4 separate regions of the Homo sapiens genome follow, and regions 2, 3 and 4 are each reported to be linked to region 1. Evidence: microRNA targets listed by miRTarBase, many of them from high-throughput screens and not tested one by one. Region 1 holds a microRNA gene; each other region holds the end of a gene's coding sequence.

Region 1 (4,166 bases):
GCGGGTGGATCACGAGGTCAGGAGATCGACACCATCCTGGCTGACACGGTGAAATCCCATCTCTACTAAAAATACAAAAAAAATTTAGCTGGGCGTGGTCTCACACGCCTGTAGTCCCAGCTACTCGGGAGGCGGAGGCAGGAGAATCACTTGAACCCAGGAGGCAGAGGTTGCAGTGAGCCGAGATTGTGCCACTGCACTCCAGCCTGGGCAGCAGAGCGAGACTCCGTCTCAAAAAAAAAAAAAATCAGATGAGAACACGTAGTGACAAAAAATAAAAAATAATATTTACAAATTTAAAAAATTTAAACTCTATTTTAGCAACTTTGAAATACACAATACATTAGTATTAACTGTGGTTACCATGCTGTGCAATAGATCACTGAAATATATTTCTCCAGTCTCGCTGAAACTTTGCACCCTTTGATCAACATCTTCTCTTTTCCCAACCCTCTCCCACTTCCCTGGACTCTAGTAGCCACCTTTATACTGTTTCTATGAGCTCGACTTTTTAAGATTCCATATAAAAGTGGGATCATGTGGTGTTTGTCTTTCTGTGTCTGGTTTATTTCACTTAGAATAATGTCCTCCAGTTCCATCCATGTTGTCTTGAATGGCAGAATTTCCTCCCTTTTCAAGGCTGTATAGTATTCCATCGTGTGTATATGCAACATTTGCTTTATCCATTATGTCCCTTGATGGACACTTAGGTTGACTCCATATCTTGGCTATTGTGACCAGTGCTGCAATGAACTTGAGAGTGTAGATAACCCTTCGACATCCTGATTTCAATTCCTTTGGAAATATAACCAGAGGTATATGAGTCTGCTAGATCCATATGTACGATTTTATTTTTACTTATTATATATATATATACACACACACATATATATTTTCTTTTTCTTTTTTGAGATGAAGTCTTGCTCCTGTCGCCCAGGCCGAAGTGCAGTGGCGTGATCAAGGCTCACTGCAACCTCTGCCTCCTGGGTTCAAGCGATTCTCCTCCCTCAGCCTCCTGAGTAGCTGGGATTACGGGCGTGTGTCACAACGCCTGGCTAATTTTGTATTTTTAGTGGAGATGGGGTTTCACCATGTTGGTCAGGCTGGTCTCGAACTCCTGACCTCAGGTGATTCACCCACCTTGGCCTCCCAAAGTGCTGGGATTACACGCGTGAGCCACTATGCCCGGCCCTTATTTTATATTTTAAAGTCTCACTATATTGGAATCCACTATATATGGAGTCTCACTGTATGGCCCAGGTTGATCTCCAACTCTTGGTCTCACGGGGTCCTCCCACCTCAGCTTTCCAAGGAGCTGGGATTACAAGTGCAGGCTACCATGCCTGGCTGTCACACATGTCGTTTTAAATGTTTAGGCCAGGGTGGCTCACACTCGTAATCTCAGCCCTTTGGGAGGCCAAGGCGGGCAGATTGCAATGTCAAGGCCAGGAGTTTGAGATCAGCGTAGGCAATAGAGCAAGACCCCGCCCCCCCGCTTCATCTCTACAAAACTATTTTTGTTTGTTTGTTTGTCTGAGACGGAGTCTCACTGTCACCCAGGCTGGAGTGCAGTGGCGTGATCTCGGCTCACTGCAAGCTCCGCCTCCTGGGTTCACGCCATTCTCCTGCCTCAGCCTCACGAGTAGCTGGGTCTACAGGCGCCCGCCACCATGCCCGGCTAATTTTTTGTATTTTTAGTAGAGACAGGGTTTCACCATGTTGACCAGGATAGTCTCGATCTCTTGACCTCGTGATCCGCCCGCCTCGGCCTCCCAAAGTGCTGGGATTACAGGCGTGAGCCACGGCGCCCGGCCGAATTTCTCTTGTTTTAAGTCACTGAATTGGGGATAATTTGTTATAGTAGCCGTTAAGAAACTAATGCAATCTGTTTGAGCTTCTGTCCCCTCCACGCTAACGGCAGAGTTTCTGAGGCTTTTAGAGAACATCTTTTCCAACCCTTCCACATAGGGAAGGAAACTGAGGCTCAGAGAGAGGATGGAGACTGAAGGAGACCTCAGGCTTCCCGCTCTTCATCCAGGCTCCGTGGGTCACTGTGGCAATTTACAGATATTTTTCCCGTTTTAAAAAAAATAGGCTGGGCACGGTGGCTCATGTCTGTAATCTCAGCACTTTGGGAGGATGAGGTGGGCAGATCAACTGAGGTCAGGAGTTCAAGACCAACCTGGCCACCATGGTGAAACCCCGTCTCTACTAAAAATACAAAAAATATTAGCCGGGCATGGTGGTACATGTCTGTACTCCCGGCTACTTGGGAGGCTGAGACTTGAGAGAATCGCTTGAATCCGGGAGGCAGAGGTTGCAGTGAGCCAAGATTGCGCCACTGCTCTCCACCCTGGGTGACAGAGTGAGACTCCATCTAAAAAAAAAAGTACAGAATGTGGACTGAACATGGAGGCTCACACCTGTAATCCCAACACTTTGGGAGTCCAAGGCAGGAGGATCCCTTGAGGCCAGCAGTTTGAGATCAGCAGCCTGGGCAACATAGCGAGACCCCATCTCTACACAAAAATAGCCAGCTCTGGCGGTGCACACCTATAGTCCCAGCTACTTGTGAGGCTGAGGTAGGAGGTTTGCTTGAGCCTAGGAGTTTGAGGCTGCAGTGAGCTGTGATCACCACACTGCACTCCAACCTGCGTAACAGAATAAAGGTCTCAAAACAAAAACAAAAAGGCCAGAATGTTTATTGAGTTTTCTTTTAAGGCTGAGACAGAGCACAAGGTTTGGTTGGAGTCCTAGTTTGTTTGTTTACCTGCTATGTGGCCTTGGATAAGAGTCTACCTTCCCTGTGCCTCAGTTTCTCCCTCTGTAAAATGGGCATGGTGAGATAAGTCATCTCAGAGGGTTGTAGTGTGGAGGGCTGCTGTGAGAATCAATGTTACTGTGCGGCATAGTCCTGGAAGTGTTTGAAATGCTGTAAAATGGGCCTGGCACAGTGGCTCATGCCTGTAATCCCAGCACTTTGGGAGGCCAAGGTGGATGGATCATGAAGTCAGGAGTCTGAGACCAGCCTGGCCAACATGGGGAAACCCCGTCTCTACTAAAAATACAAAAATTTGGCCAGGCACCATGGCTCATGCCTGTAATTGCAGCACTTTGGGAGGCTGAAGCAGGTGGATCACCTGAGGTCAGGAGTTTGAGACCAGCCCGACCAACGTGGAAAAACCCCATCTCTACTAAAAAAAAAAATACAAAAAATTAGCCGGGCGTGGTGGTGCATGCCTGTAATCCCAGCTACTCAGGAGGCTGAGACAGCAGAATCGCTTGAACCCAGGAGGCAGAGGTTGCAGTGAGCCAAGATCGCACTATTGCACTCCAGCCTGGGCAACAAGAGCGAAACTCTGTCTCAAAAAAAACAATAAAAATAAAAATAAAAAAATTTTTAAAAAAGGCCGGGTGTGGCAATGTTCGCCTGTAGTCCCAGCTGCTCGGGAGGCTGAGGCAGGAGAATTGCTTGAACCCGGGAGGCGAAGGTTGCAGTGAGCTGAGGTCGTACCACTGCACTCCAGCCTGGGTGACAGAGCAAGACTCAGTCTCGGAAAACAAAAGCAAAAACAAAAAAATGCTGTAAGACAAGAAAAATAAATGAGATGCAACGATTGGAAGGCAAGAGAGAAAACTGCCAGATAGATTCTCTTTTCTTTTTTTTGAGATAGGGCTTTACTCAGTTGCCCAGGCTGGAGTGCATTGTCATGATCATGGCCCTCTGCAGCCTTGACATTTTTGGGCTCAAGTGATCCTCCCACCTTAGCCTCCCGAGTACGTGGGACTACAGGCACATGCCACCAAGCCATGCGATTTTTTTTTTTTTTGTATTTTTTGGAGAGACACGGTGTTTCACCATGTTGCCCAGGCTGGTCTCAAACTCCTGGGCTCAAGCGATCTGCCAGCCTTAGCTTCCCAAAGTGCTGGGATTACAGGTGTGAGCCAGGGCACATGGACAGGTCTCTTCTTCTTCTTCCTCTTTTTTTTTTTTTTTTTTTTTGTGTGTGTGTGTGTGTGAGACATTCTTGCTGTTGGCCAGGCTGGAGTGCAGTGGCACAATCTCGGCTCACTGCAACCTCTGCCTCTCGGGTTCAAGTGATTCTCCTGCCTCAGCCTCCTCCCGAGTAGCTGGGACTACAGGCGCATGCCACCATGCCTGACTA
Region 2 (4,166 bases), not on the chromosome of region 1:
CTATGTATTACCTACTCAAAACAAAATGTTTTTGATGTGTGGCTTTTTTTAATTAAAAAACGTTTACTAAGTGCTGTGTGATATCCTTGTTTGGATCCTGGGGCAGAAGCAGGACATGTAGAAAAACTGATGCTATCTGAAAAAAGTCTGGAGTTAATAGTGATGTGGCAATGTTGAACTCTTCATTTTGACAAATGTCCCATGGTAATATGTCAGCACTGGGGGAAACTGGGTGGGAGGTACACAGGAGCTCTATCATCTTTGCAGCTTTTCTATAAATCTAAAATTATTCGAGTATAAAAAGTTTATTAAACTTTTTTTTTTTTTTTTTTACTTCAGTGAAACCTGTCAAATTGCATCTGCAAAATTGTTGTGTCTGAGAAAGTTAAAGCTCACTCCCTTCCCTTTTCTCATCTTGGTTTAGGTCGAAGAATTCCATCCACTGACGCCAACCTGCCATCTGGCGGTAAGGGCTTCAAACTCCGAAGACAGCCTTCAGAGCCAAAGCGGAGCTGCTGCTGACCGAACCTCAGCCTCTCAGACTTGATGATGAAGTAGGTGGTCCTGAAAGTTAACAGGAGGGCTGGGGTCCCTGCCACCAGTTTTCACCTAGCCAGTCTTGAGTCTTCTCCGTGCAAAAAGGATTCACAGAAATGGACCAGTTCTGTTCTCCAAAGACTGCAGCAATGATATTTCAGTCTGTGAACTTCTATTATGTAAAGAATCTCTAGTGTACAAAGGGACTACATCGTTGGCTTTTGACCTTGCTGAAAAGGAACATATAATTGTATGGATGGTAGGATTAAGTTGTTGAGTAGTTTTGTAATCAAGATTTTATGTAACATTTGTAAAGGGAAAATTAGCACTTTTGTGGTTCTTAAGGGAAAAGAAACAGACCTTGTGGAGATTATAATTTCCTTGGTTTCTGTTACCACTGTTAGAGGGAGTTGTATCATTTAACATATAGTAGGATAGTTTAAGTGTAGGGAGGACAATTATTGTCTGAAGCTAAAATGGGTTATTTATAGGACTGATGGAAATGATTTCATCTCTGCCATCTCTAAAGCACTTTTCATTGAACATGTTAGCCTAGGATACGTACAGTAAATTAACAATGATAGCAGCAGATGCCTAGCTCATCCTGGGTTTGCTTCTGACCTTGTCATGTGTGTGCCACCAAACACGTTATTGGCACCTTTTTAAATAAGCTCTCATGATCAAGATGGTGATGGTAGAGAAGCTGCCCGGAATAAACTGAATTTCATATGTTCTAAAATGACTAGCAATGGTTTAAAAAGGAAGAAGAGTGGAAGTGAAGAAGGTGGTATAAATGCTGTCAATTTTTTTTTAACCCAAGTATTTTGGTGGGGAAAAGCAAGTATCTATTGCTTAGCATATGTAAAGTTGTAGTCTATATTTATGGGGCCATTGCTTAAAGATTATAAATTATGTAAATACATTAATAAATTCTAAGTTTCATTTGACATTCCATTGAATCTCGCACCCAGTCTTGCGTATGCCTGCCCAGTTTTCAGCCTCTTAACGGGAGACTCAAGCACATTGGTATTGTATAAAGGTATAGAGCACTTAGCTTACAATCTTTAAAGGTTTCTCTGCCTTCCCTTCTACCCACCCGCCTCCCACCAGATCCCATCTGGAAATCATAATAAAGACATATGCCACTTTGACAAACCTGACTAGTCCTTACTAGCCTGAGGGTAAAAGATTAAGCTCCAACCTCAAGTCATTTACCTGGTCTTGGTAATAAGTTTCTTTTAGCTTGTACAGCATCCTCAGACCAACTGAGGAGCTTTCCTTGTTAACAATTTAGCTTATCTTTCTGTTTCCTTTATTTTTCCCCTGCCTCTGTTAGTGGTTAACACTCTTTTCCCTCAGGGAGCCTAATGAGGTTTTTAATATCATCTAAAAATAAAGCATTGAAGTGAAGTTGGTGAAAATTTGTTCCTGGTCTAATTTGGCACCCTTCCAACCTGAGTATTGTAGGGGAAGGAAATTTACAAGATTTAATAGGAAATGAAACAGCTTGAATTTCAAACTAAATTGTATTTTCAGAGCTATCCTGAAACTGAACAGCTGAAACTTTAAAAAATAATTGGTATTATTTTGTGCCCCCCACTTAATATGGATAGATTTTAATGGGAAAATTATAATTCAGATTAAATAAAAAACAATTCCCTTTTCCCTGTTGTATATCTTAAGCATTTGGAATTTTTTTTATCTTCTGAAATCATATAAAAAGAATGTCATTAGTAAAAATTCTAACTTCGTTTTGTTTAAAAGACATGTGGATGCTCCATGCCCCTAGGATTTTGCTTCCTCCCCGGTGCTAAATTAGCAAGCTCCTAGAGAAGCCATGTGATTCCCAGAGCCAGGCGCTTTACACCTAAAGTAGTTTGACTTTCTTCTGTATACATCCAGATGGATCCCAGGCATCCGGGCACCACCCTGGTGTGTCCCTAGAATTCCCACTGCTGGGCCTCTATCTCCATGACAACAAAATAAAAACAGAGGTTGCTTGACTCATTACCAAAGAGGCAAAGCATGTGCGACCCTTTCTGTCTTATTTTACCAAAAGATGGTGCAAATCTATGACCTTCACATTTTTTCCACCACACCCACCAGTAGCTGTTGGTGATTGCATGGTGTCTCGGTGCATGGGGAAAGGCAAGGTCTTCTGAGCTCATCTTAACTGGTGAGGCATCTGGATGTGTCTGATCTTACTGTGATGTTTTACTGTACCGAGCCCAATGTGGGTCCATCTCATCAGCCCTTTGCTGATTTCATGATTTCTCACCCTCCCTCCCATATGTAGGGTGTGATTCTGTTTTATTATAGCCACATGTTTTATTAACAGAATGAGTGATATGAAGCTTGTACTTATGCATTTCTCGGGCCTCTTCCCTCATTTTCATCAGTCTGTCTAAGAACTTGACTCGGCACTGTTTCTCGTGTAATATCCTTCTAATGCTTAGCAACAACAACAAAAAATTGCTCTCTCAGATCCATAATCCATACTCAGTGAAAGCAGGGAAAAAATATTTTCACTTATTTTATTTGCTTCTAAAATGCAAAGATGAATACTAAAGTCAGAAGCAGTGTTTCATTTTGAACACATTTTGGATTATTAAGCTGACTAAGCAATGATCTAATACACATTTCATATTTTCTTTATAATAATTTCTTATGGAGAAGAGGCTATATTTCAAAGGAATTGAGACATACTCCCATCTATAAACATGTTTGGTTTTCTTACGATACAGGGCCATTTTTTTAAAACTCTCAGGACTGAACAGAAGAGAAAAATTATTAATTAGCTGCTACTGTATGTTGATTCTTTTCGGAGAAATTGAAATAAGCTCTTTGCAGGCGTCCAATCCTAGAAACCAATGGTCTCCAGAACTCTCACACAAGTGTTTTTCTGATTCTATGATAACTAATTAACCATCATCTGGTGATTAAAAGAACATAAAGTAAGATTATGATTAAGTGTCCATCACCTGCCTGTCAGCCGTGGTCAGAATAAGTTTTACACGAAGCAGGTGAAAGATTTAGTTCTTTTCAAAGTAACTTATTTTCTTGTGACCCGTTTATGATGTTGTTTGAAGTCCCTGTTTCCCATTGTGTACGCACTTTCTGGATGTCTGGAAGGATCGGGACTTTTGTGTGAGAGGCTTGAGCGCCTCCTCTATGTGGGCTGGTGTCCTTCTTGAAGTTGTCAATTCCTCTTATTCTTAAATATCTAAAGGGAAAGGAAACCAACTTTAATTTCAGAACTTCTCTTTACGTCTTGTATGTATTTCTTTTCTGTTCTCAAGGAGGAAAATTGGTCTAGGAAGCCTTCTAAATTAAACTCTGGGAAATATAGTAATGAAAATATCCTTTAGCTAACTTTCCTGTAACTGTCAAACCAAAATGTCAGTATTTTTAGGGCATTGTGTTAAAATAAGCAGTTTAGATTCCGACGACACTGCACTAATTGGCATGTCAGCCTCCAGCTCAGAAAGGCATTTGCTCATGGTTACAGGCATCTTTTAGATTCTAAGAGTGAGTTACAGAATTCTTTTTGGTACTTTCACTTATTCTTTCAGAATACATCAAGGATGTGATTTATGGGCCCTTAAGAGTATAAGATATAGGTGCACAGT
Region 3 (4,166 bases), not on the chromosome of region 1:
TTCTCCCAGCTGTGCCTTAATCCTAAAACCTATCATAGTAACCAAAAAAGATAGTACTGCATGATTAAGTGTATGTTCTGATCGTATTTTGTGTTTTTGAAATACCCTCTTGTGCATGAAAGAGACAGTGATATATAATAAAGTAGGATTCAGGCTAGCTAAGCTTTAGCCCTCACTGTGCCATAAAATTGTATGAAATTAAACTATTGATTTACTGCTCTGTGCTTATTTTTCTTATCTGTAAAATTAGGAGCTTAGACCAATTGTTCGTAAGACCACCTCATGATTCTAAAATGTATGAATCAATGTTAGTTGAACACTGATACTCTGTCAGTAGCTACATAAAAGGTGTGGATTTTTTTAAACAAAAAGGTGCTTGATGTTCATGTGTGAAGTGATTAGACTTGAGCAATATGGAAAAGCTGAGGTTTTGTACTACCTGAATGGCACTACAGAAATTCAGATTTACATAATCTTCTTCTTTTTCTTCTGCAGTTTCTGTTTCTATTCTTGTTCTTCTCTCTTGCCTTTATTCTATGGCCTTGATGTCAAGGTGCCTCTTAAAGGTAAGATTCCATTTAATTCTCAAAATGTGGTTCTAAGAGGTATTTGATAAAAAGGATGTTACCTATAGTTACTATGCCTTTCTTTAGTTTTTTGTTTTGTTTTGTTTTGTTTTGTTTTGTTTTGTTTTGTTTTGTTTTGAGACAGAGTCTTGTTCTGTCACCCAGGCTGGAATACAGTGGCACAATCAGATCATTCACTGGCAGCCTCAATCTCCCAGGCTCAAAGCGATCCTCCAACCTCAGCCTCCTGAGTAGCTGGGACTACAGGCATGTGTCACCATGCTCAGCTAATTTTTTTTTATTATTATTTTTAGTAGAGACAAGGTCTCACTTTGTTGCCCAGGGTAGTCTTGAACTTCAGAGCTCAAGCAATCCTCCTGCCTTAGCCTCCCAAAGTGTTGACCAAGCCATCAGGCCTGGTCTATATATTTTAACTATGCTATATTTTTAAAATACAAACACACTTGCTTTGGTTAGCATAAATGCCATAAATTGAGAAATAGATCCAGTCTATTTGGGTGATTATTAGAAAAGTGAAGAAACCAAATATTCTGGGAATCAAGAATCTGTTCCAGTTAACTGTATTACTTTGGGAAGTCACAATGTCTGTGGTTGTTAGCATTCTCATCATAGTCTCCCATTATGCAGAAAGTTGCATCTGTATCTGCAAAGTGAATAAATAATGACGTTATCTTTAGTGTTGCGTTCAGCTTGAAAATTCTGATTCTGCTAATCTAACAAGCTAGTAATGACTGCTGTTTTTTTCACCCCTTTTCCCCAGTAGAGACTAGGGAGTTCATTAAAACTCAAGAAAGCAGGCTAAGTGGATCTTGTTTTCAAATAAGTTACTTTTCAATGTCAATATAGAAAACAAAAAGGAGAGTCTTATAATTACTATTATTAAGTCCATGTCTCATGAATACATGCATAAATAATCTTAGTGATTCCCAGTGCTTAAAAATATAGATTTTTAAGCCCCACCTCAGACTTGCTGAGTCAGATCACTGGAGATAGAGGGAGATAGAGAGAGGGTGGGAGAGATGAGAGCAAGGACTGGTCTGTATTTAACAAGCACGCTATGTGATTCTGATGGCCGGCCAAATAGGGAAACCACAAATCTCAATACCACTGTTCAAAAAGAAGAAGGGCCAGCGGCTATTCTAAATCCATTTATCATGGTTCATGTCAACTCTGATTATCCTATTAAATTATATTAGCCTGAGATCTTTCCTGGACCTCAGGTGATTTAACATTTTCTACAGCAAGTTGGAAAACAGAAGAGAGGCACTTTCTCCCTCCATAGGTATGAGATCTGTTACCTGGATATGGAACAGACAAGTAAAAGTGCTTTAGAATAACCTGATACAAGCAAAGAGTTAAGTAGATATGCTCAGAAAATATATGAACTCATAACTCACTCTCTGGCTATATTCTTTCTTCCAAAATATTTTCTTTTCAGATTGACCACTATCCTTTGTCTGTCAAGAAAGATGACAGCCTTGTAGGATGGAAAGAAGAGGACTAAGTCTCTTAAATTGAATGGGAATATCCAAATTGAAGTGGAGGGAGATTCACTAGTAAAGGATCAAAATGACCAGAGTATCAGGAAACAAACAGCCTCCCCCCACCAAAAAAAAAAAAAAAAAAAAAAAACAGTAAATAAATTTTAAAAGTAGGGAAAATAAATTTCAGTAAGAGACAAGTAATACATGGTGGTTTACAGAAGAAATATCAAACCTTGTAAGTACTAGGTAGAAAATGGATAGGCTTCAGCATTAACATCAATGCTGGCCAAAGCTGATTATGTCCTGGGAGCTGTTCTAAGTAATAGATACATTTAATCCTCATGAAATCCCCTGTGGGATAGGTATTGCTTTTATCCCTAATTTGTAGTTGGAGAAACTACAGCATGTGACTTTCCCAAGACCATCCAGCTACCAATTTGTACCCAGGCAGCCTCAGCCCAGAATCCACTTCTAACCACCAAACTGCCTCACAAGTAAAAAAGGGCCTTTCTCCCATGTTTCAAGCAACATTGGCGTTCATATGTATCCTCATCAGAAGCGTCATCTATTTGTATAGTACTACTTAGCTACTGGCTTTTGAAATTACAGTGTGCTCGTCTCTGTACCTTTTCCCATTTTGTGTAACTCCTTGAGGGATGTACAAGATTTGATGTTTTTCCTCCAAAGTAGCACATAAATGACACTTAGTAATTGTCTGTTAAGTGAATGACTATAATGATAATTAATAATATAGCCGATGAATGTGACAGTGAATCTGGGCAATAAATATATTGCATATGCAGTAAAATGGCTGAGAGGTTAGAGTGCACAGCTTACAAGTCAGATATAATTTAAAGCTTGAGTCCTGCCATTTACTAGTTGTGTGATGATAGGCAGTTTATTTAATCCACCCAAGATTAGGTTTCCTATTCCACAAAATGGTTATAATCATGTTACCTACAGCAGGGTGTTGTGTTGAGAGAATGAGACGAGGTTATGCATGTCAAAGGCATAACAGTGCCTGGAAAATCATTAATCAGTAACTCTTAGCTATTATTAGATTTAAAAATTAGCTACCACATTTACTGAATTCAAAATTACACTAAATTATACTAGTATTCTAGTATACAAAATTATACTAAATTCAAAATTATAACCTCTAGTACTGCCAAGTAGTTTTCAGCCTAAACCCAAACAAATAGTTGCTTTTTCATCTCCTCTTCTCAGGGAATAATCTGGCTTTAAATAATATTAGGGAATAAAACATCACTGAAAACTGATCAATGCTACTTATGTCTCCAAAGTTGGCAAGATAGAAATAGGAAGAAGTAAGGGAAAAAGTGCTTCTTTATTGGTAGGTAGTGAAAGCTTACTGCAAATTACGATAAATTTTTTTCCATACTAAATTAATGATTTGTATTGTGTTCATAAACCCAAGACTAGCTTAAATGACAAAGTCCTCCTTAAAATGGAGAGACTCCTACTTTTTTTCTTTTAGTAATTGCCTAAGTCATTATTGTCAGTAATGATATAGAAGCCATCGAACGCTCCCTAGAAGGCACCCTTACTGGACTCAGTGCTGGCATTGACTAAATAACTGCATGGATTATATCAGGACTTTTACTTTAAACAAGGGGACTCCAAGTAGTTCCAGAAGATATTATCTGGCTATGCATTCTGGTTTTCCAAACGAATGGCATATCAATGTATTAGTCAGGTTCTCCAGAGAGGTAACCAATAGCATAGATAGATAGATAGATGATACATAGATAGATGATAGATAGATAGATAGATAGATAGATAGATAGATGAAAATGAGAGCGGCTTTATTAAGAGAATTCGCTCACCTGGTTATGGGGGTGGAGAAGTCCCATGGTAAGCCATCTGCACGCTGGAGAACCAGAGAAGCAACATGGCTCTGTTCAAATCAGAAACCCAAGAACCGCTGATGGCTCACGCCTGTAATCCCAGCACTTTGGGAGGCTGAGGCTGGCAGATCACAAGGTCAGGAGTTCAAAACCAGCCTGGCCAATATGGTGAAACCGCGTCTCTAATAAAAATACAAAAATTAGCCAGGCGTGGTGGCGGGCGCCTG
Region 4 (4,166 bases), not on the chromosome of region 1:
CAATAAAAAATGAAAAAAATACAAATTATTTGTACAGTCTTATCTCAATTATGTACATATACATGTAGATTCAAAGAAAACTCATTGAAAGGAAATACACTAATTCACAAAGGTTATCTCTAAGTAGTAAGATTATGGGTGATTTTTTTTCTTCTTGAGCTGTTATGTGTTATTTGTGTATTTCCTATAATGAAAATTCTGAGATCAAAACAATGATTTTCTTTGTGCAATTGGAAAGTCAAAATAGAAACAGCAAAACTAAAGTTATCTTTGATTCCTTAATGTTGCACAAAGGAGGGGCTTTCAGTTGAAAAAAAAAGACATGTTCTTTCCTTAAAAGAATCCGCTGGCCACGGGTGCAGGCTGTGCCACCAGCACTGGATGGTCCTGGCACCCCAGCCAGTTGTGTAGCTGGCCCCGCTGTCCAAGCACAAGCCACATGCAAGGGCTGAGAGAAAGCTTCCCTGCCCCCTCCCTCCATCACATCCCCCATGATACTAATGTGGGCTCCCTTACCTCCGCAGTACGGAGTGGACGTCACGGCCCGAGATGCCCACGGGAACACAGCTCTGGCCTACGCCCGGCAGGCCTCCAGCCAGGAGTGCATCGACGTGCTGCTGCAGTACGGCTGCCCCGACGAGCGCTTCGTGCTCATGGCCACCCCTAACCTGTCCAGGAGAAACAATAACCGGAACAACAGCAGTGGGAGGGTGCCCACCATCATCTGAGGAACAGCCGTGCCCGCCTGCTCGCCGCACCTGGGACGCGGCAGCCTCGCCGCATTCTCGCTCAGAAGTCGCAGCACGTGAGTCCCGTCGCATCCCCTCCCTCTTCCTGGTGGCCACCTCCCTCCCGCCCACCCACTCTCACCCCAAACAAAATCACAAAACCTGGACATCCCTCAAGGGGCGAAGAGGCGGCCGGGAGACTGCAGAAGTGGCTCCTTTTCATAAACTCCCCTAAACCACACACAGGAGAGAGCGACGGGCCTCGGCCCTTTGATGATAGCACATGGCGCAGGACCCTTGTCCTGGTGGCACAAGGGATGGGGACGCGAGGGGGAGGGGAGGCGAGGAACAAGGAGAAGGGGCAACTTTCCTTAACTGGCAGTTGAGCACATAGTACATTTCCCCTCTACCAAACGGAACACTTGGATTCCATCTCTTCTCTGAGGAGCTCGACGGCATAAATCAGAAGCAAGCACAGAGTTTGTCAGGTTTGAAGCCCCTATGATGGTGTGTGTCAAATCAGTTGTAGCTAATCTGTCCAGGGAGAATACTGGCTTCATTACACTTGTACAGCCGAGTTCTTCCCGCATTACTGCTGTTTAATAGAACGTGATTAGTCATCGCCGAGAAGAAAGCATATTAGCCGAGGAGGTAGTCACGCGGCACGCGCCGGTGATTGCCACGATGTGATTGCAATACTCTTAGAAGCACCATATTATCCCAGACATGTTCTTTCAAGCCCTTGGAGCCCTCTCTAAATTCACTGTCATCATTTAGTATCTGTTTAATTTTTCAGTCCAAAGAGAGGAAATCAGTCGCTGAGTATTATTTGACTCCGGTCTCCTTGGTGCAAAAACAAAATGGGAAAAATAAATAAGAATAACTCAGAAACTCAAAAGGAAACCACAAATTCAGCTAATAATAGCATTTCGAGTATATTTCGTAAACTAAGGAAATACACAAAAGGCTGTTTTTTCCGACTGTAAGAGATATTTGATGTCCTTTTGCCGAGGTGGATGTGTTAGTCTCAGGCCCTCCTGGACCACGTTGCCCAAGTCACACAGGCTTCTGTGTTATGTATTTAGATAAGATGTGTGAAAATATATTTGAATAAAAGAAGTTCATAAATATGCATTGATTTTTGTACAGACAAATGGCACCTCTCTTAATTTATAAATTGAACTGGATGTGAACTAATAATGTGCAACTAGTTGAGATAAGAGGGTTACAGATCATTGTACATGGAAAATATTCCCAGCAGTAAACACTTCCATTAATGTGATCTACGGCTTTTGAAAAGGAGCATCTCAGAATAAGATGGTGGTACAATTTGCTTATTAAAATTGAGAAAGAAAAAAAAAGACACACTGGAGTATATTAGAAAGGAAAAAGAAGGAATGTGGTCTCTCATGATTGAAAGCATGATTTAGATCGGATACGGCTTTTGCTAACCAAGGACCAAGGGACTCTGGCAAGATGGGGTGGTTTTCCGAATGCCAGACCGAGGTGCCTTACGAAGGCAGCTGCCAATGGTTCTGTGGCACAGACTGGCTCCTGAGAACCCAGACGACCTTGACCTGGCAGCCCGGCCCTCCACGCTAGTACCTCGCCTGATTTTCCATCGTTGCGGTATCCAGCCGCTTCAGACGTCCGCCGCCTTCAGTGGTGGTAGTCAAATGTAGTCAACCAAACCACAGCATCCCTTAGGTTAAAAGCAAACGGGGCAGCTTTGCCTAGAGCTCATTGACAGTGTGATGGGGGGAGAAGGGTTGTCACAATGGAAGATGAGGACACTAGACTCATGTAGCACAGAAACATGAAGCCACACGCACCGGCAGCCTCCGGGGTGTTCCTCGCTCTCTCGTATGTTAAACCTTATATTTTATAAGAGTTTTTCCTCTTATTTCACTTTTTAAAAAAAATTAAAGTAGGTGGGGAAAAAAATAAAGCTTTACACAGAATTTATATGTGGGTAAGTGTTTCATGGAAATTTCTAATCTTAACGAAGCTAAGTGGAGCTCACTCGTATCCAAAAGTATAACAGGTGCAGAAGCCACAAGTCTGAGAACCTTGACGACAGTTCCATCGTCCTGCCATTTGATTTTTCAGTCTGCGTTTCATCACTGTGTAGCTATTGTAAATGTGAATAGAAAAAAACAGGTCATTGCCTATTTTTGAAGAACGCGTTGGTGTTCGAGTCCACTAGACACACTCGCTCCACACAGCCTTCACCGTAGACTCTGTAGTGGACACAGATATAGCATAAATGAAATTGTTAAATTATTTCATTGTAGTTAATTCCCACTATAGGAATGCTTTATCATAGTGAAGTTTCTTTTGAGAAGAAACGGAACTCCTTGAGGCTTCTCTTTGGGATGTATATGAGCGTGTACATATTATTCTATGTGTTTATAATATAATATTTTCCCAAATGACTTCTTGTTTCACTTTGCCTTCCACAACCTGAATGCCAGATTGGTTTTTTCCCTTCCTGGCCCCCAGCACAAGCTGCCATGACTCCCCCTCAGAAAACACAGCCCCTCCTCTACCATTCTCAGTGATGTCCATCTGCTCCACTCCGCAGCCACTTTCTAGGGCCCAAGTTTTGGTAGCAGAAGGAAAGGCAGTTTTTGAGGGTCTTTCGAAAAAAAGAAGACGGGGCAGCTTTGCCCAGAGCTCGTTGGCAGTCTGTTTGTATTTCAGTGTCTAACCAGAAGTCCTTTCTTTGCGGACCGCACTCTCGTTCCCACTTTCAAGCTAATTACCACCAAGGCTGGGAGAGGCAAGGACTGGGGGCGGAGCTAGGAATAACTCGTTTGAGAAGGGGGTGGAGTTTTCGTTGTTCATTTCCATGTTCAGTTCTGTGACGTGACGATGACAGATCACCACTGCAGGATCCCCCTCACCTTTCCTGTTCAGAATTAAAACTCTCCCTTGATGAGAAACAGCCAGCTGAGGGAGGCCCACGAGCGGCCTGTGTAACCCCATGGGTGATCTGGACACATCTGCACCCCCGCGTTCAGCTTCGCGGAGACTGAACTTGGCGGGGAGTGGAGGGGTGTGGTGCAGACCTGGCTGCAGCAGAAACACCCCGCAGGGACAGTACTCTGTGATTCTGACCTCAGGTGCTGGGACGGGCAGATGGTTTCCCCCGCCCAGCACCCCAGTCCTGGTCCCTGGTCCCTCTCTCTGTTTCATCCCAGGAAATGAGCAGCTCGAGGGTGAGCAAGTGACAAGTTCCTGAGTCACTGGCCCCAAAACCAGGTGCAGTGTCCTGTCTCCCAAGTGTGTGCACAATGTATATATGCACTGGAAAGGAGGGAGAAGGCAGCGGGTCACTCGCCAATCGCAGGGTTCTCAGACACAGGAGAGAGCGGGATCTTAATGAATTGCATTTCCTGCAGAGCCTCTAGTGCACAGGCCAGTTCTCGGCAGTGG

Evidence for each region. Region 1 holds the annotated microRNA hsa-miR-6088 (AGAGAUGAAGCGGGGGGGCG, at 1,486-1,505, opposite strand). A microRNA usually pairs through its seed, bases 2 to 8, with sites in the 3' UTR of a target mRNA and lowers its output. Matches are read on the target gene's strand: a 7mer-m8 pairs with bases 2 to 8, a 7mer-A1 pairs with bases 2 to 7 and ends in A, and an 8mer does both.
Region 2: miRTarBase lists RAB22A as a target of hsa-miR-6088. Seed matches in the 3' UTR shown: 7mer-m8 at 1,046-1,052 and 7mer-A1 at 2,778-2,784.
Region 3: the mRNA of JAKMIP2 is a reported target of hsa-miR-6088. The part of its 3' UTR that is shown has no 7-base or 8-base seed match.
Region 4: the mRNA of AGAP1 is a reported target of hsa-miR-6088. Seed matches in the 3' UTR shown: 7mer-A1 at 2,032-2,038.

The regions. Positions count from the first base shown.
Region 1 is chr19:45,433,993-45,438,158 of GRCh38, reverse strand. MIR6088 (microRNA 6088) reads right to left here and starts at 1,505; the gene lies at 1,455-1,505. It also overlaps a transcript of ERCC1 not described here.
Region 2 is chr20:58,359,182-58,363,347 of GRCh38, forward strand. RAB22A (RAB22A, member RAS oncogene family) reads left to right here. Exons shown (of 7, transcript NM_020673.3): 7 at 425-4,166. The coding sequence ends at 522. Among named protein-coding and RNA genes, the nearest start is that of VAPB, 28 kb to the right of the region's middle.
Region 3 is chr5:147,598,141-147,602,306 of GRCh38, reverse strand. JAKMIP2 (janus kinase and microtubule interacting protein 2) reads left to right here. Exons shown (of 22, transcript NM_001270941.2): 21 at 496-566. The coding sequence ends at 546. The region is part of intron 3 of JAKMIP2-AS1 (JAKMIP2 antisense RNA 1); the gene reads right to left. Among named protein-coding and RNA genes, the nearest start is that of JAKMIP2-AS1, 40 kb to the right of the region's middle.
Region 4 is chr2:236,123,395-236,127,560 of GRCh38, forward strand. It overlaps AGAP1 (ArfGAP with GTPase domain, ankyrin repeat and PH domain 1), which reads left to right. Exons shown (of 18, transcript NM_001037131.3): 18 at 525-4,166. The coding sequence ends at 728. Among named protein-coding and RNA genes, the nearest start is that of GBX2-AS1, 42 kb to the right of the region's middle. RefSeq lists an enhancer at 3,324-3,834.